Regions from separate parts of the Homo sapiens genome. Here regions 2 and 3 are each linked to region 1. Evidence: fine-mapped expression QTL. A gene starts in region 1. Each other region holds a variant in brackets. All regions are shown on one strand. Distances are from middle to middle. Region 1 holds the start of MOSPD3 (motile sperm domain containing 3). Region 2 holds the start of TFR2 (transferrin receptor 2). Region 3 holds the start of ZAN (zonadhesin).

The links.
Region 2: its variant is fine-mapped to the expression of MOSPD3 in whole blood (TOPMed, PIP above 0.99).
Region 3: its variant is fine-mapped to the expression of MOSPD3 in whole blood (GTEx, PIP above 0.99).

Annotation. Positions count from the first base shown.
Region 1 is chr7:100,606,127-100,616,814 of GRCh38, forward strand. MOSPD3 (motile sperm domain containing 3) reads left to right here and starts at 6,414. Exons shown (of 5, transcript NM_023948.5): 1 at 6,414-6,870; 2 at 7,068-7,143; 3 at 7,351-7,580; 4 at 8,741-8,905; 5 at 9,026-9,251. The coding sequence starts at 6,666. The coding sequence ends at 9,057. It overlaps PCOLCE (procollagen C-endopeptidase enhancer), which reads left to right. Exons shown (of 9, transcript NM_002593.4): 6 at 290-504; 7 at 1,326-1,397; 8 at 1,511-1,681; 9 at 1,811-2,049. The coding sequence ends at 1,977. RefSeq lists an enhancer at 6,007-6,276 and a silencer at 6,397-6,456.
Region 2 is chr7:100,640,187-100,650,874 of GRCh38, forward strand. TFR2 (transferrin receptor 2) reads right to left here and starts at 1,366. Exons shown (of 18, transcript NM_003227.4): 1 at 1,291-1,366; 2 at 790-1,042; 3 at 500-686. The coding sequence starts at 1,323. It overlaps ACTL6B (actin like 6B), which reads right to left. Exons shown (of 14, transcript NM_016188.5): 5 at 9,852-9,949; 6 at 8,543-8,637; 7 at 8,370-8,476; 8 at 7,258-7,347; 9 at 7,037-7,098; 10 at 6,785-6,899; 11 at 6,565-6,645; 12 at 6,365-6,460; 13 at 6,063-6,149; 14 at 2,911-3,140. The coding sequence ends at 3,060. RefSeq lists enhancers at 9,137-9,683, 9,684-10,228. The variant G/C (reference allele first, on the strand shown) is at 5,693.
Region 3 is chr7:100,726,600-100,737,287 of GRCh38, forward strand. ZAN (zonadhesin) reads left to right here and starts at 6,996. Exons shown (of 48, transcript NM_003386.3): 1 at 6,996-7,049; 2 at 7,428-7,622; 3 at 9,121-9,173; 4 at 9,884-10,030; 5 at 10,210-10,481; 6 at 10,663-10,688. The coding sequence starts at 7,570. The variant A/G (reference allele first, on the strand shown) is at 5,189.

The sequences.
Region 1 (10,688 bases):
GAGACCAGCCTGGGCAACATGGCGCAACCTTGTCTGTACCAAAAATACAAAATAATTAGCTGGGCATGGTGGCGTGCCTGTAGTCCCAGCAACTTGCGGGGCTGAGGCAGGAGGATTACTTGAACCCAGAAGGTCAAGGCTGCAGTAAGCCTAGATGGAGCCACTGCACTCAAGCCTGGGAGACAAAGTGAGACCCTGTCTCAAACAAACAAAAAAGGTCATGGGGCTGAGAAGAGTGTGGTGCACGCCCGCCCTGACACTTCCCCCAATGCTCGGTGGCCACCTGCAGCTCCATCTCCTCCGAAGGGAATGAACTCCTCGTCCAGTTCGTCTCAGATCTCAGTGTCACCGCTGATGGCTTCTCAGCCTCCTACAAGACCCTGCCGCGGGGCACTGCCAAAGAAGGGCAAGGGCCCGGCCCCAAACGGGGAACTGAGCCTAAAGTCAAGCTGCCCCCCAAGTCCCAACCTCCGGAGAAAACAGAGGAATCTCCTTCAGCCCCTGGTGAGTCTGGGATAGGGGAGGAAGGGGAAACAGACTGAAGGGGGCCATTTCAAAAAGTTCTGACCTGGGCTGTGGCTCACACCTGTAATCCCAGCATTTTGGGAGGTCCAGACAGCAGGATCGCTTAAGCCTAGGAGTTTACCATAGCAAGACCCTGTCTTTTCAAAAATAAAAAATTAGGCTGGGCTGGTGGCTCACGCCTGTAATCCCAGCACTTTGGGAGGCCAAGGCAGGCAGATCACCTGAGGTCAGGAGTTCAAGACCACCCCGGCTAACATGGCAACACCACATCTCTACTAAAAATACAAAAATTAGCCAGGTGTGGTGGTACACACCTGTAATCCCAGCTACTCGGGAGGCTGAGGCAGGAGAGTCGCTTGAACCTGGGAGGTGGAGATTGTAGTGAGCCGAGATTGTGCCACTGCACTCCAACTTGGGTTACAGAGTGAGATTCTGTCTCAAAAAAAAAAAAAAAACTTAGCCAGGCGTGTGGTCATAGCTACTCCGGAGGCTGAGGTGGGAGGATTGCTTGAGCTGGGAAGGTCGAGGCTTCAGTGAGCCATGACTGTGCCGCTACACTCCAGCCTGGGCAACAGAGCAAAACTCCATCTTAAACAAACAAAAAAGTTCTTCCTTGGCTACATTCACTCATTGATTCATCTGGTACTCACTGGTGCCTCCTTCCTGCCGATGACCCCTACTGGGTGCTAGGACCGGAAGCCTGACAGAGCTCTGAACAGTTCAAGTCAATGAGGCTGTTATGGGGACAGTGCTCCCTCCTACCTGCTGAGCAGGTCACCCTCCACCCTCCTCCCTCCTAGATGCACCCACCTGCCCAAAGCAGTGCCGCCGGACAGGCACCTTGCAGAGCAACTTCTGTGCCAGCAGCCTTGGTAAGAATACCCCCAACCCCATTCCAGCTCCTCGAACCACCTCCTGCTTCTGTTTCCAGTCCTGCCATCTGGAACCTCCCATCTCCTCATCTCTCACTCCCATTCTCCCACAGTGGTGACTGCGACAGTGAAGTCCATGGTTCGGGAGCCAGGGGAGGGCCTTGCCGTGACTGTCAGTCTTATTGGTGCTTATAAAACTGGAGGACTGGACCTGCCTTCTCCACCCACTGGTGCCTCCCTGAAGTTTTACGTGCCTTGCAAGCAGTGCCCCCCCATGAAGAAAGGTAACAGAGATGTGGGGAAATGGGGATGGGTCAAGCTAAGCCACACAGAAATGATCAAGGTGTGGAATCTTGAGACCTGCTGACAGGTCTCAAGAATAAGAGATCTCAACCCCTCCCTCCTTCTTCCAGGAGTCAGTTATCTGCTGATGGGCCAGGTAGAAGAGAACAGAGGCCCCGTCCTTCCTCCAGAGAGCTTTGTGGTTCTCCACCGGCCCAACCAGGACCAGATCCTCACCAACCTAAGCAAGAGGAAGTGCCCCTCTCAACCTGTGCGGGCTGCTGCGTCCCAGGACTGAGACGCAGGCCAGCCCCGGCCCCTAGCCCTCAGGCCTTCTTTCTTATCCAAATAAATGTTTCTTAATGAGGAATGGGTCAGATCTCCATGCTTATGGTATTGGGGTCCATCTTGAGGATTTCTTTTCATTAATTAATTAACTCAACACATATTTACTATACAGAATAATCGTTTAAGAATGTGGCCAGGGGTGGCTGCTCACAGCTGTAATCCCAGCACTATGGGAGGCTGAGTCAGGAGGATTGCTGAGGCCAAGAGTTTAAGACCAGCCTGGGCAACATGGCAAAACCCCCTCTCCACAAAAAAAAATACAAAAATTAGCCAGGCGTGGTGGTGCACACCTGTAGTCCCAGCTACTCAGGTTGAGGTGTGAGGATCGCTTGATCCCGGGGAGGTAAGACTGCGGTGAGCTGTGACTATGCCACTGTACTCCACCTGGGGGAACACAGTGAGACCCTGTCTCAAAAAAAAAAAAAAGAATGTAAGTCACAGGCCAGGTGCAGTGGCTGATGCCTGTAATCCCAGCACTTTGAGAGGCTAAGGTGGGAGGATCACTTGAGGTCAGAAGTTTGAGATCAGTCTGGGCAACATGGCCAGATTCTGTCTTTACAAAAAATAATTAGCTGGGCATGGTGGTACTCATCTGTGGTCCCAGCTACTCAGGAGGCTGATGTGGGAGGCTTGCTTGAGCCCAGGACTCTGAGGCTGCAGTGAGCTATGATCACACCACTGTACTCCAGCCTGGGCAAAAGAGTAAGACTCTGTCTCTAAAAAAGTAAAAAGAAAAGATGTCATGTCTTGGCGGGGCGCGGTGGCTCATGCCTGTAATCCCAGCACTTTGAGACGCCAAGGCAGGCAGATTACTTGAGGTCAGGAGTTTGAGACCAGCCTGGCCAACATGGTGAAACCCCGTCTCTACTAAAAATACAAAAAAATTAGCTGGGCGTGGTGGCGGGCACCTGTTACTCAGGAGGCTGAGGCAAAAGAATTGCTTGAACTCAAGAGGTGGAGATTGCAGTGAGCTGAGATTGTGCCACTGCACTTCAGCCTGGGCAACAGAGTGAGACTCCGTCTGAAAAAAATAACATAAAATAAAAAAGAAAAGAAAATATGTCACATCTTTTTTTTTTTTTTTTTTTTTTTTTTTTTTTTTTTGAGACGGAGTTTCACTCTTGTTGCCCAGGCTGGGGTGCAATGGCGCAATCTCGGCTCACTGCAAACTCCGCCTCCTGGGTTCAAATGATTCTCCTGCCTCAGCCTCCCGATTAGCTGGAATTACAGGTGCGCACCACCACACCCAGCTAATTTTGTATTTTTAGTAGAGATGGGGTTTCTCCATGTTGGTCATGCTGCTCTCGAACTCCCAATCTCAGGTGATGCACACCCCTTGGCCTCCCAAAGTGCTGGGATTGCAGGCGTGAGCCACCATGCCCGGCCGATTATGTCACATCTTGTCCCTCCTTTACTCAAAACTTTCCTGTAGTTTCCTAAGTCTTACCAAGGGTTCAAGGCCCTATATCATCTGCATTCTCTCTCCTGCCTCGTAGCTTCATGTCTATTATCTCCTATGTATCATCTGTTCCAGTCACATTGGCAACTTCAGTTTGTTGCCCATTTCTTTTTTTTTTTTTTTTTTTTTGAGATGGAGTCTCGCTCTGTCACCCAGGCTGGAGCACAGTGGCATGATCTGGCTGGACTGCAGTGCAGTGGCGATATCTCGGCTCCCTGCAACCTCCGCCTCCCAGATTCAAGCGATTCTCCTGCCTCAGCCTCCCGAGTAGGTGGGACTACAGGCATGTGCCACCACGCCCGGCTAATTTTGTATTTTTAGTAGAGACGGGGTTTCACCATGTTGGTCAGGCTGGTCTCGAATTCCTGACCTTGTGATCTGCCCGCCTCGGCCTCCCAAAGTGCTGGAATTACAGGGGTGAACCACCGCACCCGGCCTTGTTGCCCATTTCTAGTACACTTCTGTTTTAGGCCTTTGCTATTTCCTCTATCCAGAATTCTCTCCCATAGACATATCTCATGGTTCACTTCCTAAATCCAGTCAGATCTCTGCTCAAAGTTCATCCTAGTCACTCATTCATTTGTTCATTCCAAATGGTAGGCACTGTCATAAGTCCTAAAGATACAACAGAAAACTAAACAAAGTCCCTGCTCTTGTGAAAAGGAAAAAACATTCTACTGGAGGAGAGAGAAACAATAAAATAGGAGGTCATGTATCACTATAAGTGCTATTAAAAAAACAAATACAGGGCAGGGAGCGGTGGCTCACGCCTGTAATCCCAGCACTTTGGGAGGCTGAGGCGGGCGGATCACAAGGTCAGGAGATCCAGACCATCCTGGCTAACATGGTGAAACATCATCTCTACTAAAAATACAAAAAATTAGCCGGGTTTGGTGGTGGGTGCCTGTAGTCCCAGCTACTCGGGAGGCTGAGGCAGGAGAATGGTGTGAACCCGGGAGGTGGAGCTTGCAGTGAGCTGAGATCGCGCCACTGCAGTCCGAGATTGCGCCACTGCAGTCTGGCCTGGGTGAAAGAGCGAGACTCCATCTCAAAAAATAAACCAAACCAAACAAAACAAAAAAAACAAATACAATTAGCCGGGTGTGAAGTCGCGCGCCTGTAGTCCCAGCTACTCAGAAGGCTGAGGTGGGAGGATTGGTTGAGCGCAACCAAGCAGGTGGAGACTGCAGTGAGCTATGATTGTACCACTGCCCTCCAGCCTGTGTGACAGCACAAGACTGTCTCAAAAAAAAAAAAAAAAAAAAAGAAAAAGAAAAAGAAAATGTAAAAGAGAACACGGGGATTCTACACAAGATGTTCAGAGGAGACTTTCAGATAAGATCAACTTTGTCTTTGCTCCATTGCTAACTGGGTGCCCTCAGAGACCCAGATTCTTCACCTTATCCAGGCTGTAAAAGGAGTTGAAGATTCGATGCAATTAAAGTGGCAGGGTTTAGCAAATCCTTTTTTAAAATATATAATTACTCAAACAACATGGGTTTGAAATCAGCAAATCTTAATTCCCTGTGCAAATGTGAGTGATTTCCCACGTCCCTCACAGGAAGGTGAGAAACAGGAGGCAAGACTTAGTCTGGAGTCCCAGATGGGAGGAACCTCCAACCCATAGAAAACAGACTTTGAGCCTGGGGAAGGAACAGTGGCTCTCATGCACTTTGGGAGGCTTAAGTGGGAGGATCGCTTGGGCCCAGGAGTTCGAGAACAGCCTGCAGAACATAGCGAGATCGTCTCTACAAAAAATTACAAAAAGCCAGGCATGGTGATGCACGCCTGTAATCCCAGCTACTCGGGAGGCTGAGGCAGGAGAATCGCTTGAACCCAGGAGTTGGAGGCTGCAGTGAGCAATGATAGCGCCACTGCACTCCAGCCTGGGCGACAGAGTGAGACTCTGTCTCTAAAAAAGCAAAAAAGAGGGCGGGCACGGTGGCTCACGCCTGTAATTACAGGACTTTGGGAGGCTGAGGCAAGTGGATCGCCTGAGGTCAGGAGTTCGAGACCAGCCTGACCAACATGGTGAAACCCCGTCTCTACTAAAAATACAAAGAATTACCCGGGCGTGATGGCGCACGCCTATAATCCCAGCTACTCGGGAGGCTGAGACAGGAGAATCGCTTGAACCCTGGAGGCGGTGGTTGCAGTGAGCCGAGATCGTGCCATTGCACTCCAGCCTGGGTGACAGAGCGAGACTTCGTCTCAAAAAAAAAAAAAAAAAAGCAAAGAAAACAGGCTTGGTTCCTGCAGAGGCTTCTAGAGCCTGGAATGAAGAGGAGGAAAAGGGCTTCCCGGTGGGAGATTGACTTGGACCATCTCAAGAATAGGGAGGAAAGAACAAAGCCCAGTTCGAAACCCCGCCCCCGGTTCTCTGAGTTACTTCAGGGCTCGAGTTCGAGCCAGTACAACTGTTACGTCACCGGAATCCAGCCAATCGCAGACGACAGAAGGAGGGCGTTGTTTGGTCTTTCAGCACACCAATCGGCGTATAGTTACGGCAGAAACAAAGACGTCCTAGCCAATGACAGAGGCCGTACGGCGGAAGTATAGAAAAGGACTCTCTGGAACATGGCAACATTAATCTGACCACAAGCTGACTGGCAGGTGCTTTAACCACAAGGTGGGCATCCTAACGCGAGCGACCGTTTTGAGGCAGAAGCCCGATGGGGCCCGTGTCCGAGCTTAGGGAGGGGCCGGAGACGCAAACACAGGTCTCCCAGGAAGCAGGCGGCGTCACAGGTCGCTCTGCAGGCGCCCGCTGCAGCGGGCGGAGTCTGGCTGGAGAGAGGAGGCGGGCGTCCGGGAACGCCCGGAAGGGGCGAGGCCAGCGGCGGGGCGGGGCTTATGGAGATCGTGAGCTGGGCGTGAGGAGAAGGCCGGGTTGGGAGCTGCGAGGGGCCGGGTTTAGCGGGGTGGGCGTGGCCGTCGAGGTGGGGCTCGGCGGGTCCGAAGGAACCTGGGGCAGAGCTGGAAGAGGAAAGGTCTTGGGGGCCCTGGGCCTGGGTCTGCGGGAGCCCCATCTAGCGGGGTTCCAAGGCGGCGGCGGCATCAGTCGAGGCCCTGCTCCGGGAGCTCATCTTGTCCCCTTTCGCCCCTCACGCCCCCCAGCTCTGACTCCAGGCCCTGTCCCCTGAGCTCTGCCCTCGGATGTCCGACCGCCCAGAGCCTGCATGCGCCGTGGGGCGCCCCAGGACCAGGAGCTGGTGGGTCCGGGGCCCCCTGGGCGGGGGTCCCGGGGCGCCCCTCCTCCCTTGGGACCCGTTGTCCCGGTCCTGGTCTTTCCCCCGGATCTAGTATTCAGGGCGGACCAGCGGAGCGGACCCCGACAGCTGCTGACCCTCTATAACCCCACAGGAACTGCGCTTCGCTTCCGAGGTAAAGGGATCGGCGCCTCGTGGGGGCTGGTGGCCGGACACTGGGGGGTTGTGTTGGCTGGAGGAGTCAGATGGGTAGGGTTGCACGTCCAGCTTTGGTGGACTGGGAAAGTCATGTCCAGCCTCCGGGGCAGAAGGCAGAGGGGACTTAAATGACCCACATGGCAGGGCTTGTCTGTGTGTGTCTCTATCCCCCAGTCCTGTGCACAGCACCTGCCAAATACACGGTGTTTGACGCAGAGGGATATGTGAAGCCCCAGTCTTGCATTGACATGTGAGTGAGCTGGGAGGGTGGGGAGGCTTGTGGAAGCCAGGGGTCGCTGCCACCTGTTGTCTGAGGTCTGAGACCTTGCCCCCTTTAACCTATTTGCCCTATCCTCTGCCTGTGCCCCTAAGGGAGAGACTTCTGGGGGGAGGCCCAGATTTCCTTGGATTACTGCCTCATTCACCCCAATGGGCTTCTCTCCTACCTTGGGACCAGTGTGATTCGCCATGTGGCACCCATTCCCAGCCACTATGATGTCCAGGACCGCTTCCGCATTGAGCTGTCTGAGGAAGGAGCTGAGGGCCGAGTGGTGGGACGCAAGGACATTACCTCCATTCTGAGAGCCCCAGCGTACCCCCTTGAGCTTCAGGGACAGCCAGATCCAGCGCCTCGCCCAGGGCCTCCTGCTGGGACACCACCACCCACGGCCAGACACTTCCAGGAGCGTGAGTTGGGAGACTGGGATCTTGAGTTCTGTAGGGAGGGAGGAACTAGCATTTCCCTAGAGATGAGATAAATTGGATTTGAAGAAGTCTCCTGGTTCAGTCTTTTGTCTTTTGGTGGAAACATTCCTCCGAGTTGAGATTTTATATCAGGTGAGGGGGAAAAGACTTACAGCTTCCCTGGTTTCTGACTTCTACTTAGAGGAAAAAGTTCTTCCTTGACTGTAACCGCAGTACTTCCTATCATGTGGTAGCTCAGTTCAGTTCAATAAGAAACCTGTATTGAGCAATTAACCCTGTACCAAGTTGTGTGCTGGGTATGAGATCAAGAGAGGTCCCTGCCTGTCGGATAGGTCCACAGAAGAGAGAAAATGAATGCTGAGGGACTGGAGGAGAGAGTTCTTGTGGTGGTGGGGACAGAGGCTGTAGGAAGGAGAGGACACTTGCAGTGTACCCCTGGAGGGCAGTAAAAAGTAGATACAGGGTGTGATGGCTCACGCCTATAATCCCAGTGCTTTGGGAGGCTGAGGTGGGCTGATAACCTGAGGCCAGGAGTTCAATACCAGCCTGACCAACATGATGGAACCCCGTCTCTACTAAAAACACACAAAAATTAGCTGGGAGTGGTGGCTCGCACCTGTAATCCCAGCTAGTCGGGAGGCTAAGGCAGGAGAATCACTTGAACCTAGGAGGCAGAGGCTGCAGTGAGTCAGGATTGTGTGGCTGCACTCCAGCCTGGGTGCAACAGAGTGAGACTCCGTCTCAAAAAAAAAAAAAAGTAGATACAGGGTGTGGTGACTCACACCTATAATCCCAGTGCTTTGGGAGGCTGAAGTGGTGGGAGGATTGCAATTGCTCGAGGCCAGGAGTTCAAGATCAGCTTGGACAACATAGCAAGACCATCTACAAACAACTTAAAAATTAGCCGGGCATGGTAGCATGAACCCATAGTCCCAGCTACTTAGGAAGCTAAGGCAGGAGGATCACCTGAGGCCAAGAGTTCCAGACCAGCCTGGACAACGTAGTGAGACTCCATCTCTACAAAAAATAAAAGATAATTAAAAAAAAAAAGTAGATACATCTTCCTTGTTCAGGCTTCTCCCTGGAGGACCTGGGCTGGGCAGGAGTGGGGGCTGCAGCATCTGATGAGTCTTGTTTCTCAGACCCCCGCCAGCAACTGGCCACCAGCTCCTTCCTCCTCTTCTTGCTGACGGGGATTGTGTCTGTGGCCTTCCTGCTGCTCCCACTCCCGGACGAACTCGGCAGCCAGCTGCCTCAAGTCCTGCACGTCTCCCTGGGACAAAAGTTGGTGGCCGCCTACGTCTTGGGTGAGGACAGTAGTGGCCAGGGACCCAGGCCCCAGGAAAAAGGGAGAAGGGACGGGAGGAGAGCTAACAGAGCCCCAGGGCTGCCCATGCGACCCTATTCTTTCTTTGTCCCCCCTCCAGGCCTCCTCACCATGGTGTTCCTCCGGACCTGAGCTCCGTGCTCAACCCCCAGCCCACCCCACCCTCCCTGGGCAGGGTCTTGAGGCAGCCACTGTGATGCTCATACCTTACCTTGCCTCCTACCCTCTTCTCTTTCCTGCCTACTCCCCACTCCTCCCTGACAAAAAACACCCAGGGATTTGTACTCATTTTCCAAGTTGAATAAAATACATTTTTAAAATGATAATCAGAAATGTAGGGTACTTGCCCCTGTCTTCCCACTTCTTTTTTGGTACTCAGACATCCTCTAGTTCTCCCACCCCTGTTCCCAGGGGACCCAGGCACTTGGGGCAGTGATGAGGCCCAGCGAGGATTTAGAAGAGTTAGGTCACTCCTGGTGCTTGCGCTGAAAAACTATGTGACCATGAGCAAATTATTTAATTTCTCTGAGCTGTAGATTCTACCTACAAAATGAGAGCATTGGGCAAGTTGATTCTCAAGATCCCCTTCAGCCCTGGAATAGGATCCTGTCCCTAAGCCAATGTATTAACCTAAAAAGAAATGAATGAAAATACCACCTAATCCTGCCTGCGGTGGAACTCCTGTCCCACCATCTGGAGGCAACAAAGCCTTTCACCAGGGTTACCTGGGTGTTTACAACCCCTAGAATCCTTTTCTGCCTTTTGGACCCTATATCTGTTTTCCTGGGTCTTTCCTTTAAGACTTCAACTCCCTTGGCTGGGCACAGTGGCTCATGCCTGTAATCCCAGCACTTTGCAGGGCCGAGGCGAGTGGATCACTTGAGGCCAGGAGTTCGAGACCAGCCTGGCCAACATGGTGAACTCTTGTCTCTAAAAATACAAAAAATACACCCAACATGGTGAAATTTTGTCTCTAAAAATACAAAAATTAGCTGGACATGGTGGTAGGTGCCTGTAATCCCAGCTACTCAGGAGGCTGAGGTAAGAGAATCATTTGAACCTGAGAGGTGGAGGCTGCAGTGAGCTAAGATTGTGCCATTGCACTCCAGCCTGGGCAGCAGAGCAAGACTCCATCTAAAAAAAAGAAACAAGGCTTCAACTCCCATGGATCAGAAACACCAAAGTCCCTACCAATATGGGGGAAATAGTATTGCTTGACATAACCTCACCTTAACCAGGAAAAAAAAAAAAAAAGAAAAAACTAGGGTACAGGAAAAGAATAAGATTTACAAAAGCAAGCTTCCAGCTCACCTGCCCTCCTTCAGGTGCAGGGTGAGGAGAAACAGAGGAAGAGGGAGAATGGCCAGGCTCAGTGGCTCACATCTGTAATCCCAGTGCTTTGAGAGACCAAGGTGGGAGGATTGCCTGAGCCCAGGGTTTCAAGACCAGCCTGGACAACATAGCGTAGACCCCATTTCTACAAAAAAAATAAAAAGGAGGGAGAGCCAGTGACTCTGGGCAGATGGTTGACTGGGAACAAAGATCAGCAAGATATTAAGACAGACCCAGGCTGTCACAGCACTGGAAGGTGATCAGTTGTTCCAGCTTTACTTTAGGGGCATTGGGACCTGCTCCACTACCCTGGGAGTCTTCTCCCTCTCACACCCAGAACTGGCTCCAGTGGGGTGTGGCCCTGATACTGCATGGAGAATGGGTGTGCCGTTTGTGTCCAGGAGTCTGGGGACAGCTCTTGCCATAGCCCA
Region 2 (10,688 bases), 34 kb after region 1:
CTCCCCCGTCAAGCTCCCAAGTAACTGGGACTACAGGCACTCGCCATCATCCCCAGCTAATTTTTGTGTTTTCTTTGGTAGAGACGGGGTTTCATCGTATTGCCCAGGCTTGCTTGCTTGGTTTTCTGATTCCCTAGAATGCGGCTTCTCAGAACCCCTCAGCGCTCCCTGCTCCAAATCTAGGCGCCTGGGTGAGGCATTCAAGGCTTTTCTGGGTCTGTCCAGTCTGATACTGGATGCTGCACCCCTCTGATCTCAGACAGTCAGCTCCCTCACCTCCCAAATATGCCACCCTCAGAGCCTCAGTCCCCTGGAACCTCAGCTCCGAATGCCTGCCATCCTTCCCAGGACCGCTGAACAGGGGGGCCAGGAAGGCAGATGGGAGGACTCAGGAGGGGGACCCAGACACCAGAGGCCTGGGCCAGGAGGCAGGGAGGCCCAGTCTGAGCGGATGAGGGGAGGGACACTCGAGAACAGGATGGGGCAGGGCCATCCCTACCTGATGGTGTCCTCCAGGCGCCCCTCCCCCAGGAACTGCAGGAACATGGCCTGGAGGTCGCTCCAGTAGAGTCTGCCCTGGTGGAAATCCAGGTCAGGCTCATAGTTGACATCCTCACTGACCACCAACACAGAGTCTCCGCACGCCTGGCAGGACCCTCGGAAGGCGACGTAGCCCAGTAGGAAGGCTGGCGGGTGGCAAGATGGGGATTCTCTTTATGCCCACCTCTGGACCCCAGAAATCTCCCCCAGCCCAAGCCCTTCACTTCTGGGGAGGGGGACGGCTCTCACCCCCAGTGAAGATCAGCAGGGCCGTCAGGACCAGGTAGGGGGCAGCCCTCCGTCCTGCTGCCGCCCAGGGAATGAGGTTTGGCTGCCTGGGTCTAGAGCCCAGGGGCTCAGGGCCCCTCAGCTCCATGGGGCAGAAGTGGGCCAATGTCTCCGCCCCCTCCTCCCCGTCTTCCTCTTCCTCCTCCAGGTGCCCTTTCCGGGGGCCTTCCACACGCTGGTAGACGGTCTGAGAGGATCTTGGGGACAGTTGTTGCTGTGCAGGCGAGGTGGGCATGAGATTGGGGCAAGAGGCCTGGGGGGTGGGGAGGCATCTGGCAATAATGAGGTCAGTGACTTGGGGGTGTCAAATGAGCATGGTGGTGGGGGCGTGGGGGAGGGGCAGGGGTGGGAAGAAGCGAGGTCAGGACACGGTCCAGGAGGGGCCAGCCTCAGGGGCTTGGGAGGGGGCTGAGGGACTTAGAGAGAAGGCCTAAGGGGTCTTCCCAATCCCACTAGTCTTACCGCTCTCTGGAATAGACCCCAAAGCCGCTCCATGCTTGTGTCCCCTCCTGAAGCCTGCAGGCTGTCCCCCAGCGATAAACCGATAAACCGTTTGTGGGAGCCCTAGGAGGGCCCCTTATCAGTCCTGGCAGGCAGCCTGAACCAAGGCTGCTCCTCACCACCCCCAAGGGTGGGGGCACAGTCCTGGCCTCAGTCCAGCCTTCCAGACGTGGCCCCCGGGTCCAGGCCAGAGCACAAGGGGCTGTGCTCTCCCCTGCCAATCTCTCCACAGCCCCACGCCTGCCTCCTCCCTGCAAAACAATCAATTTTTTGACCTTGGGGCGGACTTTGGCCTCCTAGTTCCCATCAGGGGTGGGGGAAGGGGGCCGATAGTGGGGGAGGGCAGAGACATGGGTGCCCCCTCCCCTCTCCTGCTTTTACCCCTCCCTGGATCCTGGGGACCCCTTCCTAAGCCCCGCCATGCCCAGGTGGAAGATTCACCCCTAAGACATCTGCCCCTTCCTCATCTGGCCTTCAGAGTCCCCCAGTGCCCCGGTCCTGTGACATATCAGCTGTCCTCCCTGTCCTGACACTTGCCCCAGTGGCATTCTAAGCTGGAGGCACCACAGTGGTGTGACTTGGGGGTCTGGTCTGGTGGTGTGCATGTGTGTCTCTTTTGAAAGGTCGTTCTCAGACTCCTGCTGGCTGCTGGAGAAGGAGGGGCACAGGTGGGAGCACATGGTCAGATGAGACCAGCGAGAGCTCCCAGATAGGGGTCCTGGGGTCAGGGATATGTGGGTCAGTGGGGAGGAGTGATCAGAGTCCCCGCCAAGGTGTGGGCAGAGCTGGGTGACCCTGGACAAGTCATGGTCCTCCCTGGGCACCGGCCCGTTTGGTCACCGAAGGACTTGGATCACATGGGTTTCTACCTCTTTGGGTTCTGAGGCTGATGAAAGGCCAGTTAGCCTCACCCCAGAAACATGTCACAGGCATAAACTGCTAAACAGGCAGGGGGCGCAGGTCCCCAAACCCTTCCGAGGGCCCCAAGACAAGTAGCTCTGAAGAGGAGGGCTCAGGGTCCCACCAAGTTTCCCTTTCGGGTTTCCCCTGGGAAACATCAGCTCCTACTCAGGTCCAGAGAAGTTCCGAGCTGCTGGGATGCACCAGCGCCCTAGTCCCCGCCCCATGTCTGTCACCACCAAGAGCCCCAGGAAGGAAGGCATAGCGCATCTCACCTGAGCGCAGGTCCTGGGGTGCTCAGGCGTGCTGCTCCCCTGAGACCTAAGGCCTACGCTGAGGCCCCGCCCACCAGGCCCCACCTCCTGTTCCGCCCATCCAGGCTTCACCTCCTGCTCCACCCACCTCCTGCCACACTCACCCCAGGCCGTGCCCCTCCACTGCACCCTGCAGCCCCTCCCACCTCCCACCACAACTGTTAGCCCCCAGCAACTCCCCCAACCCCCGGTCCTCGTCATGTGGCCCTCCCTGGGTCACAACCCCTAGGAAACCTGAGGAATCCATGGCCCCTGGGGCTGTGTCCCAGCACCCACTGTGGGATCGGCATGGGTGTAGAAGTGAGACTCCCTCCCCTCACCTCCCTCCAGACCCCTGTGCCCACTCCCCACCCCACGGAGGCCAAACTTTTTTTTCTTAAAACATTTTTACTTCTTTCAACCCAGAAACATCACCATTAATGAGGACAAGAGGGAAAGGAGGAGGGGGGCAATGTGGCATGGGGGTTAAGGGACTTCCATCTGAGCTTGGGAGCAGGTGTGTGGGGAGGAGTGCCATCAGGGGCACTTTCGCTCCACGCACTGCTTCCCGCCCTCCTCATATTCCTGCTTGGAGATCCACATCTGCTGGAAAGTGCCCTGGGTGGAGGGGGTAATATCAGGGTCAGGGTGGCCTTGGAGGGAGGTGTGGACAGGCAGGTGCAGCCCCTGGGAATCCTCCAACAGGCCCCAACCACCCCTTGGGTTCACATCCCTCTGAAGCCCCTCCCCACCTCATCCTCCCCTCCTCGGTCTGTCCCCTTTCATATTCAGAGGGAGAGTATCCTCTTCATATCATTCAATCAATAATTCATTCATTCAACAAGTATTATTGAACAGCAGTCTCTGCCCTGAGCTAGGCCCTGTTCCTGAGCTGGGGGGATGGCACGCACAGCCCCAGGCCAGGCAACCTGCACCTGGCACTCAACACCCCCTACACACACACAGTCCTTCCCCACCAGGTGTCCTCTTCTCACTCCATCAGGGCTTTGGAACACCGCCAGTCTCCCTCTTTCCCAAGGAAGATATTCCCTCCACCTCACCATTCCAACACTGTGGCACCCCATCTGCAGCCTTCGGCATTACAACTTGCCCCTTGAGGGTTCCTGCAATGAGCATCTCAGAGTGTCCCTTCTCTCTATTTTTTTAAAATTTTAATTTTAATTATTTTTATTTTTATTTTATTTTTTTGAGATGGAGTCTTGCTCTGTCGCCCAGGCTGGAATGCAGTGGTGCGATCTTGGCTCACTGCAGCCTCCGCCTCCCAGGTTCCAGCGATTCTCCTGCTTCAGCCTGCTGGGTAGCTGGGATTACAGGCGCGTGCCAACACGCCCGGCTAATTTTTGTATTTTTAGTAGAGACAGGGTTTCGCCATGTTGGCCAAGCTGGTCTCAAACTCCTGACCTCAGATGATCCGCCCGCCTCGGCCTCCCAAAGTGCTGGGATTACAAGCGTGAGCCACCGCGCCCAGCCTAATTTTTATTTTTTGTAGAGATGGTGTCTCACTATGTTGCCCAGCCTGGTCTCAAACTCCTGGGCTCAAGTAATCGTTCCACCTCAGCCTCCCATAATGTTGGGATTACAGGCGTGAGCTACCACGGCTGGGCTTCTTTGATCTTTCTCAGCCTACACACATGTGCTGTCCAATGCAGTGGCCACTAGCTTCCTGTAGCTCACCAGCCCTGGTCCAAATTGAGACGTGCTCTAAGTGGAAAATACACACCCAATTTTTTTGGGTTTTTTTTGAGACAGGATCTTGCTCTGTCACCCAGGTTGGAATGCAGTGGCACAGCTCACTGCAGCCTCAACCTTCCAGGTTCCAGTGATCCTCCAACCTTGGCCTCCCAAGTAGGTGGGACTACAGGTATGCGCCACATTGCCAGTTGCTTTTTAAATTTTTTGTAGAGATGAGGTCTCGCTTTGTTGCCCAGGCTGGTCTAGAAATTTTGGGCTCAAATGATCCTCCCGCCTTGGCCTCTCAAAGTGCTGGGATTACAGGTGTGAGCCACTCCACTTGTCCAGGATATATTATTAATACTTAATTTCAGGCCGGGCATGGTGGCTCACACCTGTAATCCCAGCACTTTGGGAGGCCAAGATGGGCAGATCACTTGAGGTCAGGAGTTTGAGACAAGCTTAGCCAACACGGTGAAACCCCATCTCTATTAACAATCCAAAAATTAGCCAGGCGTGGTGGCTCACGCATGTAATCCCAGCTACTCGGGAGGCTGAGGCAGAAGAATCGCTTGAACCCAGGAGATGGAGGTTGCAGTGAGCCAAGATTGCTCCACTGCACTCCAGCCTGGGCGACAGTGAGACTGTCTCGAAAACAAAAACAAAAACAAAAAAAGGAAAAAAACAAGAACTGTGTGGCTGACATGCTTCAGCCCTGAGCTAAGTTCAGACTGCCAGCCTCTGTCTTTCTGACCCTGGTTTCTGTCTCCCTGGGGGACTTCCTTTCTCGTGGATGTCCTCCTTGTCTGTCATGGCCCCACTGTCCCCTCTGTGTGACTGATACCCTCCAGATGCGGGTTGCAACTCCAGCTCCCTGCTCAGTACCTTCCTTCGAACCCAGCAGCAGGTCCAGACTGAACTTACCACCTCCTGCCCCAGAACCAACCTGCCTGCCTCCTTTACTAGTTGCCCCTTGCTGTCCACCCCATCCCCACTGCTACCCATGCTATGACTCCGGGACAATCAAAACAGCCTCCTTGTAAGGTCCCCTTGACCCCAGCTCATACCCCGACCCCAAAGACTCATGCCTGGCAGTCTTTCCAATCATGCCTGCATTGCCACATCACTCCCTTGCCCCAAAACATCAGGGTCTCCCCTCTGCTGACTGAGCACAGTGGGTGTATCACCAAAATCTCATCCTGACCAATCTCTCCAACTACCTGTCCCTCTACTCCCAATTTTTTTTTTTTTTTGAGAGTCTTACTGCGTCACCCAGGCTGGAGTGCAGTGGCACGATCTCAGCTCACTGCAGTCTCCGTCTCCTGGGTTCAAGAGATTCTCCTGCCTCAGCCTCCTGAATAGCTGGGATTACAGGCATGCACCACCATGCCTGGCTAATTTTTGGATTTTTAGTAGAGACAAGGTTTCGTCATGTTGGCCAGGCTGGTCTCGAACTCCTGAGCTCAAGTGATCCACCC[G/C]TCTCGGCCTCCCAAACTGCAGGGATTACCGGCATGAGCCACTGTGCGCAGCCTCTTCTCCCCAGTTTGTAAAAGTAGAGATGGGTCTTGCTATGTTCCCCTGCTGGGTTTTCAACTCCTAGCCTCAAGCCATCCCCCCACTTCAGCCACCCAAAGTGCTGGGATGACAGGTGTGGGCCACCATACCGGGCCCCTGCCCCCCGATTTGTGTCCTGTTCACCCTTCTGGGAACATTCATTGACTGACATTTCTCAAAACTAAATGTTTGTTGAATGAATGAATGAACGAAGAGGCAGTCAAAGTGGCGGGCACTGTCTGGGTCTCCCCTCTCCCCCACAGTCAGTGCTAGGCCAGGTCCCTTTCCTCTCACCAGTGAGGCCAGGATGGAACCCCCGATCCAGGGGCTGAACTTGCGCTCCATGGTGCTGTTGCTGGCAATGAGTTTCAGTCGCATGCTCTGGGGGTAAAAAGGGGCTGGGGGAAGCAGACACCTAGGTTCTGGGAAGGGACAGGGCTTGGGGGAGAGGGGAAGACTTGGGAAGCCACAGGGGCAGGGGTTCTGCTCTGGTGGCCAGAACAGAAGGAAGGACATGGGAAGGATGAAGGGACTCAGTCCTGGACAGCTGAGCCAGGACGGGTGTCCAGGGCTCTGGGTCAGGGGTGGGCTCCTACCGGTGGGGTCTTCTGGGAAAGCTCTCGATTGAGCCTGTCAGTGAAGCCCTGCAGCAGTGTGTTCCCGCCGGTGACAATGACACTCCCGTACAGGCCCTGAGAGCAGGGAGAAGGAGTGAGCTGCGGGGGCAGCCCCCCAACCCCGTCTCCCCACTTCCCCTGGGCCCCTTTGCCGAGCCTCAGCTCCGGCCTGGCCTCACCGGGCGAATATCAATGTCACACATGCCGATGCTGGTGGTCACCACGTGGCCCACACCCAACATGGTGTTCCCCGACAGGCCCTGCAGAGAGAGGTGACTGGGGCTGTGGGCTCTCTCCCCCTTCCCCCCAGACCCCTGCAATCCTTCCCAGCCTCCCCCACGCCCCAGGATCCAGGGACTGCAGCCAGCACCCACCCCAGTCCTCGCCACACAGCCAAACCTTGACGTTCGAGGGATCAAACAGGCCCTCAGGGATGCGGAGTCGCTCGGCGCCGTAGTCTGTATTGTAGCCATTGGGCATCTCGTAGTGCACTGTGGGCATTTGTGCAGCCACCCTACCCAGAAGGGAGCAGGACTCTGCCTGGGGTGCTCAAGAAGGATCAGTGCGTGGGCAGCACCAGAGCCCCCCAGCCCACCCCAAGAGTGCCGGTTCTGCCCTCTCTCCCACCCCAAAGCCCTGAGCCACACTCACTGTTCATCGTAGGGGGAGTCTGAGACCTGCAGCACGGAGGCCTGGAAGTCCTGGATCACCTCCTGAAATCCCAGCGGAGGTGGTGAGGGCCTGCCTTCCCCGTGAGCAGCACCCCCTGCCCCGCTCCCCCTCCCTGCTCCCCCTCCCATGCGGGGCCTCTGTCCCGCCCCCGATTCATGGCAGGGGAGGGGGGTTTCAGGTGGCCCTCTCCAGAGGCTCACATTACACATGTAGTTATGCCAGGACTTGGAGACCTGGGGTAGCTTCTCCTTCTTCTTCCAGTTTGGGGGGGCACCCTCCCGGACAGGCTCCTGTGGGGGCACAGTGTAGGAACACCCTTTCCTAGCCCACCTGACCCCCACCCCCACCTTCCTGGCACTGTTCCCAGCTCTGCAGCTACCTGGCGCTGCAGGCTCTGCTGTGCTGCCTGCAAGAGGGGTTTCTCACCCTTCCCTGATGGAGAGGAGAGAGAATGGGGCATGCCTCTCTCTCCATGTGTGCCTTTCATGCGGTGGGTGCAGCTGATCTGGAGAACACCAGGAATACAGCAGTGACAGAACCTCAAGGGAATGGCCTCCTAGGGGGTCATGATCCATGTGAGGGCACGGAATGGAGCTAAGCACACAGTGTCACTTCATACTCACAGCACCCTGGCTACTGCCTACTGCCGTTCCACTTTACATAAGACAAACCTGAGGCCCAGGGAGCTTTGATATCATGCTGTTGGTCACACAGCTCTTTTTTTTTTTTTTTTTCAGATGGAGTCTCACTCGGTCGCCCAGGCTGGAGTGCAGTGGCGCGATCTCGGCTCACTGCAACCTCTGCCTCCGGGGTTCAGGTGATTCTCCAGTCTCAGCCTCCCAAGTAGCTGGGACTACAGGCATGCACCACCATGCTTGGCTAGTTCTTGCAGTTTTAGTAGAGACGTGGCTTCACCATGTTGCCCAGGCTGGTCTCGAAGTGAGCTCAAAGCGATCTGCCTGCCTCAGCCTCCCGAAGTGCTGGGATTACAGGTGTGAGCCACCATGCCTGACCGGTCCTGCAGCTCTTGCACGGCAGAGGCAGAACTTGAACCTGGGTCTATATTGGACCCTAGAACCCACCACACTGGCCCTCACACATCCTGCTGTCTGCCAGCTGGTTTCATGACCTCAGCATATCCCTCAGCCTGTCTGGATTTCGGATGCCTCGATTATAAAAGGAGGAACTGGAGCCAGGACCCACTGGGGAGCCTGCTGCTCTCTGCTCTGATATCTCATGTGTCAGAGGGTTGACGGCCATGGGGCGAGTGGCCAGGACTCTAGTGGCAGCTCCATGTCCCCAGAGGCCCCACCTTGGCTGCGATCATGTAAGGTGGGATGATGTCAATGGCCATCTCCTGGAACAGCTCCCGGCACTGCATGGAGATGAAGTCCCCTGCCAGAGGGGACTTGACGATGCCTAGAAGGAAGGCACTGTCAGGACCTGGTCCTCCTGGAGCACCCCCACCCCCTGCCGAAGCCCCACCTTGCTGCAGAACGTAGCCGTCATGTACTGGAATGGCCGTGGTGTGGGTGGCTCCACTGTCCAGCACGAGGCCAGTGGACCGCCCGTTTGCAAAGCTGGCATCGGATGGGTAAGTCAAAGAGACAGCAGCAGCAAGTGAGGGGCCTGGGCCCAGATCTTGTCTGGTCACTCTCTGCTCTACCGGGGTCCAGCCCATCCCCAGTCTGCAAATCTCTCCCCCTGGTGATGACTCATCTCCTGGAGAAAGGCTCTGAGACCCCAGTTACTTCTTTTTTTTTTTTTTTGAGATGGAGTCTTGCTGTCTCCCAGGCTGGAGTGCAGTGGCGCAATCTCAGCTCACTGCAAGCTCCGCCTCCCGGGTTCATGCCATTCTCCTGCCTCAGCCTCCCGAGTAGCTGGGACTACAGGTGCCTGCCACCACGCCCGGCCAATTTTTCGTATTTTTAGTAGAGATGGGATTTCACCGTGTTAGCCAGGATGGTCTCGATCTCCTGACCTCGTGATCTGCCCGCCTCGGCCTCCCAAAGTGCCGGGATTACAGGCATGAGCCACCACACCCGGCGACCCCAGTTACTTCTTTAGTTATTTTTTTTTTTTTGAAACTGAGTTTCGTTTTGTCGCCCAGGCTGGAATGCAATAGCTCACTGCAACCTCTGCCTCCTGGGTTCAAGAGATTCTCCTGCCTCAGCCTCCCAAGTAGCTGGGACTACAGGTGCCCACCACTATGCCTGGCTAATTTTTCCATTTTTAGTAGACACGGGCTTTTGCCATGTTGGCCGGACTGGTCTCTAACTCCTGACCTCAAGTGATCTGCCCGCCTTGGCCTCCCAAAATGCTGGGATTACAGGCGTGAGCCACCGCGCCTGGCCAGCCCCTTTATTTTTGGTTGTGTCCTACAGATTCCCTGAAATTAGGGTCGCTATCACCCCAGTGCATAGCACAGGGTTCAATGCAAGGCAGATCCTAAAAACAGTCAGTGTTGAAGGAGTTCTTGGGAAGGGACTGCCGCAGTGTTCTACACGTCTCCCTCCTCTGTCCAGTTCCAGCCCCTACTCTCTCCCGGGCCCAGCTCACTGTCTGCTCAGCCTGATCCGGGGAACCGAAAGGGGCCGCTGATCTGGCCACCCCAGAGTCGGAGGTGCTCAGTCCACTGGGCCTTCTGCACTAGTGGGGCAGAGGGAGGTGTCTGCCCATTGGGACACTGATCTTCAGAGAACCAGGCCTGACCCTCCAGCTCATCACAGCTGAGCTCAGCACAGGCCCCACCCCAGCCCTCCACCCAGTCAGAGCAGCTCAGTCCAGAGGATACGCGGTGAGCACAGCCGTCTTGCATAAGAAGAAGGCAGGAATGTTGTACTGCTCGAACATCAGCTCTGTCAGCTTCTCCCGCTTGGCCCGTGTGTTCCACTGTGGAGAAAGTGCAGAGGGGGAGGATTCAGGAAGGGAGAGGCACAGACCCACATCCACGCACACGCAACCCACTCACTCACACATACACTCACGGTCACACACACACATCCAAACACTTGCACACACATACACAACCTAAACACTCACACATACACTCACGGTCATACACACATGCATTCACTTGCACACACACACACATACACTCAAACACACACACATACACTCACATTCACAGACACACATAAACACACACATGCATTCACACTATACATACACTCACGGTCACACATGCAAACACACTCACAAACACACGGTCAAACACATATATACTCACATTCACACACAAACTCACACACACACATACACATATATTCACACTCACAGTCACACACACATGCATTTAAAACATTTGCACAGGCCAGACAGGGTGGCTTACGCCTATAATCCCAGCACTTTGGGAGGCCGAGGCAGGAGGATTGCTTGAACCCAGGAGTTCGAAACTAGCCTGGACAACATAGTGAGATGCTGTCTCATTAAAAAAAAAATTTAAAGTAAGGAGCTTGTGGGAATTAAAACTACATGAACAGAAATGAAAAACTCAATAGAAGGATTGGAACATAAAGTGGAGGGAATATCTTGGAAACCAAAGGAAAAAGGTAAAGAGATGGAAAATATAAGAGAAAAGGGAATTAAATTAGGGGACCAATTCAGGGGGCAACAAAATCCAATAACAGAA
Region 3 (10,688 bases), 120 kb after region 1:
GTTAGAAACATTTAAAACATTTATTCCAAGTTTATAGAATGGCTACTGTGAACCAAGCCTTTGCACTAAGTGCTAGGAGACATGAAATGACACTCATAGCCCAGTGGCCAGTGGGCAGCCTCCTGGGGGCAAAAAAAGGCACACATTAATTCATTTTATTTTATTTATTTATTTTTTGAGACAGGGTCTTGTTGTGTCACCCAGGCTGGAGGGCAGTGGCACAATCTCAGCTCACTGCAACCTCCACCTCCTGGGTTCAAGCAATTCTTGTGCCTCAGCCTCCCGAGTAGCTGGGATTACAGGCACATGCCACCACACCCGGCTAGTTTGTGTGTGTGTGTTTGTGTTTTTTTGTTTGTTTGTTTTTGTTTTGTTTTTTGGTAGAGATGGGGTTTCTCCATGTTGGCCAGCCTGGTCTCGAACTCCTGATCTCAGGTGATCCACTCATCAGTCTCCCAAAATGCTGGGATTACATGCATGAGCCACTGCACCTGGCCTTGACGCACATTAATTCAGACGTAGTCATTTTGGTATGGGACTGAGTGCTAAGCTGTGCAATGCCAAGAGGCCGGGGAAGGGAAGAACCACAGGATTTAGAAGAACTAAGCGAGGCCCAGAGTCTGTGCTGAGAGGCAGATTCCCAAGGAGGGTGTTGCCAGATTTCAGAGGTTCTTCGAGTGCAGGCCAGGAAAGGAACTTTCCTCTGAACTGTGATCATGGTTATAATTAACAACACATTCAATCTGTGGCATCTGCATGCTGCGATTCTCACCCGAACTCCACGAAGCAGGAATACAATGAGTATCATCCCCATTTGTCAGATGGGGAACTAAGTTCTGCTGGAAAGTGACAGAGCCAACACTTTTGACTTTCTGGTGGGGACAGGAGCCAGCAAAGCCTAGTTCTGAGTCAAGGGGTTACATAATTGTTTAAAGATGATGCCTTCTGTTTGTAGAGAGCTTGGCTATTTACATGAAAAGCATGTGATTTCCTGGCATGCTTTTCATTTGCTCTCCTAACGCCAAGAGGAAGGCAGGGATGATGGAGGGTCCCCATTTTGCAGAGGAGGAAACTGAGGCCCAAAGAGATTATGGGCCTTGCCCAGGTCATAAAACACGGAGATGGGGCTGGACGAAGTGGCTCATACTAGTAATCCCAGCACTTTGGGAGACTGAGGCAGGAGGAGGGCTTGAGCACAAGAGTTCCAGACTGGCCCCAGAAACATAGGGAGACCCTGTCTCTAAAAAAAATTTTAAAGCAGTGGGGCATGATGGTGTGCACCTGTAGGCCCAGCAGAAGCAGGAGGGATCACTTGAACCCAGGGATTTGAGACTGCATTGAGCTATGATTGCAGCGCTGCACTCCAGCCAGGGTGACAGAGCAAGACCCTGGCTCAAAAGAGAGAAAAAAAAAAAGTCCGGGTGTGGTAGCTCAAGTCTGTAATCCCTGCACTTTGGGAGGCCAAGGTGGGTGGATCACTTGAGGTCAGGAATTTGAGACCAGCCTGGCCAACATGGTGAAACCCCATCTCTACTAAAATTACAAACATTAGCCAGGTGTGGTGGTGCATGCCTGTAATCCCAGCTACTTGGGAGGCAGAGGCACGAGGATTGCTTGAACCTGGGAGGCAGAGGTTGCAGTGAGCTGAGAGATCGAGTCACTGCACTCCATCTTGAGCAACAAGAGCGAGACTCCGTCTCAAAAAGAAAAAAAAAAGAGAGAGAGAGAGAGTCCCTTTTCTCTCTGACCCAGGATCACCAGGGAGAGGAAAGAGAAGAGATGGAGTGAATGAGACAGCTGTGGTCAGCAAGGCGTGTCCATCTTCCACGACCGACTCCTTCCCATTCAATCCCCTGCCTTGGGATCCTGCTTCTTCCCTGCATAGGCAGAAAGTACCTACCAACTTCCCTTCTTCCCAACTCCCTGCTCTGAGTACTGCGCTAGGAGCCAACTCAGCCACCTCCTGCAGCCCCAGCTCTCCATCTTAACTGCAGCCTCTCGCTCTTGGGTACTCACTGACTCAAATCCTCCCTCTGGGCCCAAGCATCAGGCTGAACAAAGACCTGTCCCTAGTTCACAGGTCACCTAGGATTCTTTTTTTTTTTCTTTGAGATGGGGTTTCGCTCTTGTTGCCCAGGCTGGAGTGCAATGGCGCGATCTCAGCTCACTGCAAACTTTGCCTCCCGGGTTCAAATGATTCTCCTGCCTCAGCCTCCTGAGTAGCTGGGATTACAGGCATGTGCCACCACACCTGGTTAATTTTGTATTTTTAGTACAGACAGGGTTTCTCCGTGTTGGTCAGGCTGGTCTCGAACCCCGACCTCAGGTGATCCACCTGCCTCAACCTCCCAAAGTGCTGGGATTACAGGCGTGAGCCACTGTGCCTGGCCAGTCACCTAGGGTTCTGCTGGAACTACTGAACTGTAGTTCAGTAGGTGATCTTACCACAGTAGGGTTTGTTGCTGGAGTTGCATTAGCTAAACAGGGTCTTTTAGACACTGGAATCTAAGCTGAAGGCTAATAATATTATTTGAAGATGGTGAAAGTTAATTCTACTAAAATTCCATCATAAAACTGTGGCATTGTGAAGGATTGTTGGCAACAAATAAATAGACGATAGTATAGTTTCTCAATTTATGGGAGTCATGGCCAAATGTCTCTAAACTCCCTTCTTTATTTAAGAAAATTGATTATTAAAAATGGCCAGTGGTTCACGCCTGTAATCCCAACACTTTGGGGGGCCAAGGTGGGCGGATCACCTGAGGTCAGGAGTTCGAGACCAGCCTGACCAACATGGTGAAATCCCGTCTCTACTAAAAATAAAAAATTAGCTGGGTGTGGTGGTGCATGCCTGTAATCCCAGCTAGTTGGAAGGTTGAGGCAGGAGAATTGCTTGAACCTGGGAGGCGGAGGTTGCAGTGAGCCAAGATCGTACCATTGCACTCCAGCCTGGGCAACAAGGGCAAAACAAGATAAAAAAAAAATTACGTGACCGGGCGCGGTGATGTACACTTGTAATACCAGCACTGTGGGAGGCCAAGGTGAGAGGATCACTTGAGGCTGGTAGTTTGAGACCAGCCTAGTCAACATAGTGAGATCCCTGTTTCTATAAAAAATTTGCTGGGCTACTAAAAAATAGACTGTAGTTCCAACTACTTGGGAGGCTGAGGTTGTAGTGAGCTATGATTGAGCCACTGAACTCTAACCTGGGTGATAGAGCAAGACACTGTCTCAAAAAAAAAAGTGACTGCCACACATAAATTTCTTTCTTTTATTATTATTATTATTATTATTTTTTGAGACAGAGTCTCACTCTGTCACCCAGGCTGGAGTGCAGTGGTGCGATCTCGGCTCACTGCAACCTACCCCTCCTGGGTTCAAGAGATTCTCCTGCCTCAGCCTCCTGAGTAGCTGGGACTACAGGTGCGCACCACCATGCCCAGCTAATTTTGTATTTTTAGTACATACGGGGTTTCACCATGTTGGCCAGGCTGATCTTGAACTCCTGGCCTCAGGTGATCTGCCCACCTTGGCCTCCCAAAGTGTTGGGATTATAGGTGTGAGCCACTGCACCCAGCCAACATCATAGATTTCTGGCTTTAAAAAAATCTTGGCTGTACTGATTGAGCCTCCTCCCCAATCTTACAGAGGAAGGAACTAAGACACAGAGAGGGTGAGAAAAGTTCCCAAAGACACACAGCAAATTTAGGACTGGGCTCCAGTTCTCTCAAGGGCTTTTCCACAGCCCAAGGTCTCTCACACCTGTTCCCACAGCTGCCAGTCTTGTCAAGGTTGCCAGTCTCTGGGGCGTTGCTGGTTCCTGGCTCCCTAAAATACAGGGCCCAAGGGTCCTCCCCCACTTTCCTGTCCTGCCGTGAGCCCCCCACCCCCACTTCCAGACGGATTGGGAGCTGTGACCCCCAGCTCTGTGGTCCCAAAGGGAGGTCAGCTAAAGCAGCTACCAGGGGACTTATTGCCCAACAGGGAGTGGCTATGATCAATGTCTTCTGCTCCTCTTCCCTGGGTTAACCATTTCCTGGCCCTGGCCCCTCTGTTAATTCCTCTGCTAACCTGGTATGGAGGAAGGGTGGACAAGGGCTTGGGATGGACACCATTGATATCCCCAGGTCTGACATAAACAGGCAGGGGGGTGCTCTCAGTCCTCAGATGTGATCCCTGCCTGAGCTCTGTTGGCATTCCATGGCGAGGCTCTTCAGCCTCATTTGGGCAGAAGCGGTCCTGGGGATTGCAAAAGGGCTTTCTTTTTCTTTTATTTATTTCTTTTTAGAAACAGAGTCTCCTTGTGTTGCCCAGGCTGGAGTGCAATGGTACAATCATAGCTCACTGCAGCCTTGAACTCCTGGGCTCAGGCGACCCTCCCGCCTCAGCCTTCTTTGTAACTGGAACTACAGGTGTGCACCACCATGCTTAGATAATTTTTGTATTTTTTGTGTAGAGGGTGGGTTCTCGCTATGTTGCCCAAGCTGGTCTCGAACTCCTGGGCTCAAGCAATCCTCCTACCTTGGCCTCCCAAAGTTCTGGGATTACAGGCACAAGCCACCGCGCCCGGCCATTTCTTTTCTTTTCTTTTCTTTTCTTTTCTTTTCTTTTCTTTTCTTTTCTTTTTGAGACAGATTTTTGCTCTTGTTGCCCAGGCTGGAGTGCAATGGCGCGATCTTGGCTCACTGCAACCTCTGCCTCCCAGGTTCAAGCAATTCTCCTGCCTCAGCCTCCCGAGTAGCTGGGAGTACAGGCATGCACCACCATGCCCAACTAATTTTTTGTATTTAGTAGAGATGGAGTTTCACCATGTTAGTTAGGCTAGTCTTGAACTCCTGACCTCAAGTGATCTGTCAACCTCGGCTTCCCAAAGTGCTGGGATTACAGGCATGAGCCACCGTGCCCGGCCTCCGGCCATTTCTTAATATGATCCAATTACATACCTACTGATAAATATTTATCATAACTTTTCCTATTGTAAACAATGTTGCAATTAATATCTTTGGGTATCCGCAAATTTGTGCAAAGTGCATGTATTTCTGTAGCAAGTTTCCTAGAAATGTTAGGTCAAAGATATGCACATTTGAAAGTTCAACAGTCATTGTCAAATGCCTTCTAAGAAGTTTTCTGGCCAGGCACTGTGGCTCACACCTGTAATCCCAACACTATGGGAGGCCAAGGTGGGTGG[A/G]TCACCTGAGGTCAGAAGTTCGAGACCAGCCTGACCAACATGATGGAACCCCATCTCCACTAAAAATACAAAATTAGCCGGGTGTGATGGCACATGCCTGTTAATCCCAGCTACTTGGGAGGCTGAGGCAAGAGAATTGCTTGAACTCGGGAGGTGGAGGTTTGCAGTGAGCTGAGATTGTGCCATTGCTCTCTAGGCTGGGTTGACTCCTCCCCCAAAACAAACAAACAAACCAAAAAACAAATGCCTTCTAAGAAGTTTTCACCGGCTGGGCACAGTGGCTCATGTTTGTAATCTCAGCACTTTGGGAGGCTGAGGCAAGCGGATCACTGGAGCCCAGGAGTTTGAGACCAGCCTGGGCAACATAGTGAGACCCTATCTCTACAATACAAGCAAGCAAAAAAAACAAACAGAAATTAGCTAGGCATGGTGGCTTGTGCCTGTAATCCCAGACACCCCGGGAGGCTGAGGTGGGAGAACTGCTTGAGCCTGGGAGGTTGAGACTGCAGTAAGCTGTGACGGCACCACTGCACTCCAGCCTGGGCAACAGAGTGAGACGCTGTCTCAAAAAAAAAAAAAAAGTTTTCACCAACATTCTTTTTTTGTTTTGTTTTGAGACAGGGTCTCGCTCTGTTGCTCTGGCTGGAGTACAGTGGCTTGATCATAGCTCACTGCAGCCTTGAACGCGTAAGTCCTCCCGCCTCAACCTCACAACCAGCTGGGACCTACAGGCACATACTGCCATGCTTGGTTAATTTTTAAATTTTTTGTAGAGACAGGGTCTCACTGTTTTGCCCAGGCTGGTCTCTAGCCTCAAGCGGTCCTACCATCTCGGCCTCCAAAAAGCACTTGGGATTACCAGCATGAGCCACTGCACCTGGCCACCAACCTACAGTCTTATCATCACTGAGTTCGTATCTACCTGCATCCTGTCCAATACTCCGTACTACCAATCTTTCAAATTTTTGTCGGCTGGGCACAGTGGCTCATGCCTGTAATTCCAGCACTTTGGAAGGCCAAGGCAGGCAGACTGCTTGAGCCCAGGAGTTTAAGACCAGCCCGGGAGACATGGCAAAACCCCATTTCTGCAAAATATACAAAAATTAGCTGGGCTTGGTGGCATGCACTGGTAGTCCCAGCTACTCCAGAGGCTAAGATGGGAAGATCACCTGACCCCGGGGGTTTGAGGCTGTAATGAGCCAAGTCATGCTGCTGCGCTCCAGCCTGGGTGACAGAACGAGGCCCTGTCTCAAAAAAAAGAAAAAAAAATTTTTTTTTGGTCAATATAAGAGTCATAGTTTTGATTAGCATTTCCCTTATTACTAGTGAAGCAGAACAGCTTTTCAAATGTTTGCTGCCTGTTTGTATCTCTTCCTCTGTGACTTATCTTTCTCCGTGATTTGCCAGTAGGCATTTGCAGTCCTTTTTTTCTTTTTTTTTTGACTTGGAGTCTCGCGATCTCGGCTCACTACAACCTCCGCCTACCAAGTTCAAGTGATTCTTGCGCCTCAGCCTCCTGAGTAGCTGGGATTATGAGCATGTGCCACCACCCCTAGCTAATTTTTTGTATTTTTAGTAGAGATGGGGTTTTGCCATGTTGGCCAGGCTGGTCTCGAACTCCTGACCTCAAGTGATCCACCCGCCTTGGCCTCCCAAATGCTGGGATTACAGGTGTGAGCCACCACGTCCAGCCGTTTGCAGTCCTTCCTTCACCTAACTCTCCAGTTGCCACTGTTGCCAGTTATAGAATTTTAGGTTTGAAATGGTTTTCTGTTGGAATTCTGCAGACAATGTTCCACTGGCTCTTAGACTCCATGGTTGCTATTGAAAAGCTGGATGCCATGTTGATTTCTGATCCTTGGTATATGACTTGTTATTTTCTATCTGAAAGTGTTTCAGATCTTCTCTTCACCCCTGATAGTCTGAAGTCCAGTGCTTCCATGGGTCTCTATGCTTTCATCACCCTGGACACCTTTTTAATCTAGAGACTTGTATATTTCAGTTCTGGATATTTTCTTGTGCGTTTTTCTTTTTAAAATAATAATTTCTTTTCCTTTGTTCTCTCTTTTTGAACTCCTTTCGTTTGAGGTTAGACTTCCTGGATTGATCCTCCAAACCTGTTTCCTTTTTGTTTCTTTCTCTTTTTTTTTCTCTTCTCTCTAGTTTATTTCCCTCGATTTCAATCTACGATGCTTCTACTGGATGGTAACTTTCAACTCTCATAATTTTAATTTCCCAGAGCTTTTCTGTGTTTCTCTGTTCATTCTTCATGGCATCCTTGGAAGGATGCCAAGCTAAGGAGGCCAGGGGGGAATAAAAGGAGTCCAGGCTCCCAACTGTGCCCTTCCCCTCTCCCCTGGGAGCAACCACTTAGGGTCCTCATGGTTCCTCCAGTCTGGACTCTGCTGCTTCTGGTGGGGGCTGCCCTTTTCAGGTAAGCTGGGCCCAGGGGGTAATGATAAACCAGGGTCAGCTGAGGGTGGCTGTAAGGAATATGGAAGGACAGAGCTGGAGGGGGCGAGCAGGCTAACTACAAAAGATCTGGAGAGAGGCCAGGCACGGTGGCTCACGCCTGTAATCCCAGCACTTTGGGAGGCTGAGGTGGGCAGATCACGAGGTCAGGAGATCGAGACCATCCTGGCCAACATGGTGAAACCTCGTCTCTACTAAAAATACAAAAAATTAGCCAGGCGTGGTGGTGTGCACCTGTAGTCCCAGCTACCCAGGAGGCTGAGGCAGGAGAATCGCTTGAACCTGGGAGGCGGAGTTTGCAGTGAGCTGAGATCATGCCATTGCACTCCAGCCTGGATGACAGAGCGAGACTCCGTCTCAAAAAAAAAAAAACAAAAAAAAAGACCTTGAGAGGAAGGGGGAAACCCGGTGGGATGGAAATGGGTTGACCTTGACTGCTGAACAGGAATTAAGGGGCGGGTTCTGGGAGCGGGACAGGGCTACAATGTGAGAAGGGACGGAGGAGGTGCAGAGCTGGAAGACAGATCTAAGCCTAGGAGAGAAGGATTGAGGGGTCAGGCCCTCAGGAAACGGACAAGACCCAGGGTGGACCCAGCTGATGAGAGAGACTTAAGTACGAGGCAGCAAAGAAATGACGGATGACAGGCCAAGCGCGGCGGCTCACCCCTGTAATCCCAGCACTTTGGGAGGCCGAGGCGGGCGGATCACCTGAGGTCAGGTGTTGAGACCAGCCTGACCAACATGGTGAAACCCTGTCTCTACTAAAAATATAAAATTAGCCAGGCATGGTGGTGCATGCCTGTAATCCCAGCTACTTGGGAGGCTGAGGCAGGAGAGTCACTTGAACCCGGGAGGCGGAGACTGCAGTGAGCGGAAATTGCACCATTGCACTCCAGCCTGGGCAACAAGAGCAAAACTCCATCTCAAAAGAAAAAAAAAAAGAAATGATGGATGTCTTGGTGTCCTGCAGTGTGTTTGGGAGAATTTGAACAAGTAGAACTTCAACAACAACAAAAAACAGAGGGCTGAGCACAGTGGCTCCCACCGGTAATCCCAGCACTTTGGGAGGCCAAAGTGGGAGGATTGCATAAGGCCAGGAGGTCATGACCAGCCTGTGCAACATAGAAAGACCCCATCTCTATAAAAAATAAAAATAAATTAGCTGGGCGTGGTGGCATGCTCCTGTAGTCCCAGCTACTGGGGAGGTTGAGGTGGGAGGATTGCTGGAGCCCAGAGGTTTGAGGCTGCAGTGAGCTGTGATTGTATCACTGCACTCTAGCCTGGGTGCCGGAAAAAAAAAAAAAGAAAAGAAAAAAAGAAAAAAAGTCAAGTCAGACACATTCACTGCATAAACACTGATCATCCTTACGTGACCACTCAGAAAGCTCACAGTCACTGAATCTTATAATTCTTGATAATGACACGAGTTGCATTTTTGCTTTCTTCAAACGACCCCCAAGGAAAGAGAAGCCTCCGGACCAGAAGCTGGTTGTTCGCAGCTCTAGGGACAACTGTGAGTTGGAAACCAGGAGTGCTAAGATTTCTCCTCCCTCCTCCGAACCCACATTCTGCCACCAGAATGCCAGTTCCTGAGTTCCTAGCAGGAGCAGCCACCTCCAGTCCCCTCCGGGCATCAGCCAGGACTACAAAATGTGTCCTGCCAGGCCAAGTCCAGCCCTCCAACCTCAGTTCATGACCCCGGACCTTGTCATTCTGTCCACTCTCCCAGCCCCGAATTTCTCCTAAAAGATTCTCTCTTTCAAATCTCTGCTCTGGGCCGGGTGCTGTGGCTCACACCTGTCATCCCAACACTTAGGGAGGCCAAGGTGGGAGGATGGCTTGAGGCCAGGAGTTTGAGAGCAGCCTGGGCAACATAGTAAGACTCCATCTCCACAAAAAACAGACGAGCAATTTCTGCTCTGGACCCCAAGGCTTTGCAACAGCTTTCTTTTTCTTTTCTTTGAGACGGAGTCTCCCTCTGTCCCTCAGGCTGGAGTGCAGTGGCGCGATCTTGGCTCACTGCAAAGTCCGCCTCCTGGGTTCAAGCGATTCTCTTGCCTCAGCCTCCCCAGTAGCTGGGACTACAGGTGTGCGCCACCACACCCGGCTGATTTCATGGCAGCTTTCTCTAAGTGTAGCAATCTTGCTACTTCCCTCTCCCTGTGTGGCTCTGGGCCCTGCCCCTGCCCTCTCTGAAACCTCACTGTGACCCATTCTTCCTAGATGTCCTCACCCAGTGTGATTTTGAGGATGACGCCAAACCCCTCTGTGACTGGTCCCAAGTGTCCGCAGACGATGAAGACTGGGTTCGAGCCAGTGGGCCCTCTCCCACCGGCTCCACCGGGGCCCCCGGGGGGTACCCTAACGGAGGTGAGGGGCTATGGTTTCCAGGGGACCATGAGCAGGGAGGTGGCTGGGAGGCGGGAGTGGCTAGATGGAGAGAGAAGGGAGGCAGCCAGACCTGGATGCCTGGGCTCTGAGAAGGGGATGGGTGGGGGCAGCCCTCAGAGGTGGCTGGGCCTCAGTGTCTTGGGCTCTGCCTCCCCCAGAGGGCAGCTATCTGCATATGGAATCGAACAGCTTCCACCGTGGGGGAGTGGCCCGCCTGCTCAGCCCCGACCTATGGGAGCAAGGCCCCCTCTGTGTGCACTTTGCCCACCACATGTTCGGGCTGTCTTGGGGCGCCCAGCTCAGGCTGCTGCTGCTCTCGGGTGAAGAGGGCCGCCGCCCCGATGTGCTCTGGAAACACTGGAACACCCAGAGACCCTCCTGGATGCTCACCACCGTCACTGTGCCCGCAGGGTTCACCCTGCCCACCCGGGTAAGGCCGGGGACAAATTGTGGGACCTCGGGGGGGAGTCTGGGTGTTGGAGAGCCTGAGGGTGGGGGTGTGGCAAAAAGGGATTGTGGGGGCCAAGCCATCTGAATTCAGGAAGAAAACTAGGAGCCAGGAGGCCTGGCTGAGGGGCTCATGGGGTTGGGGTCCCCTTATCCTCTTGCAGCTGATGTTTGAGGGAACACGGGGTAG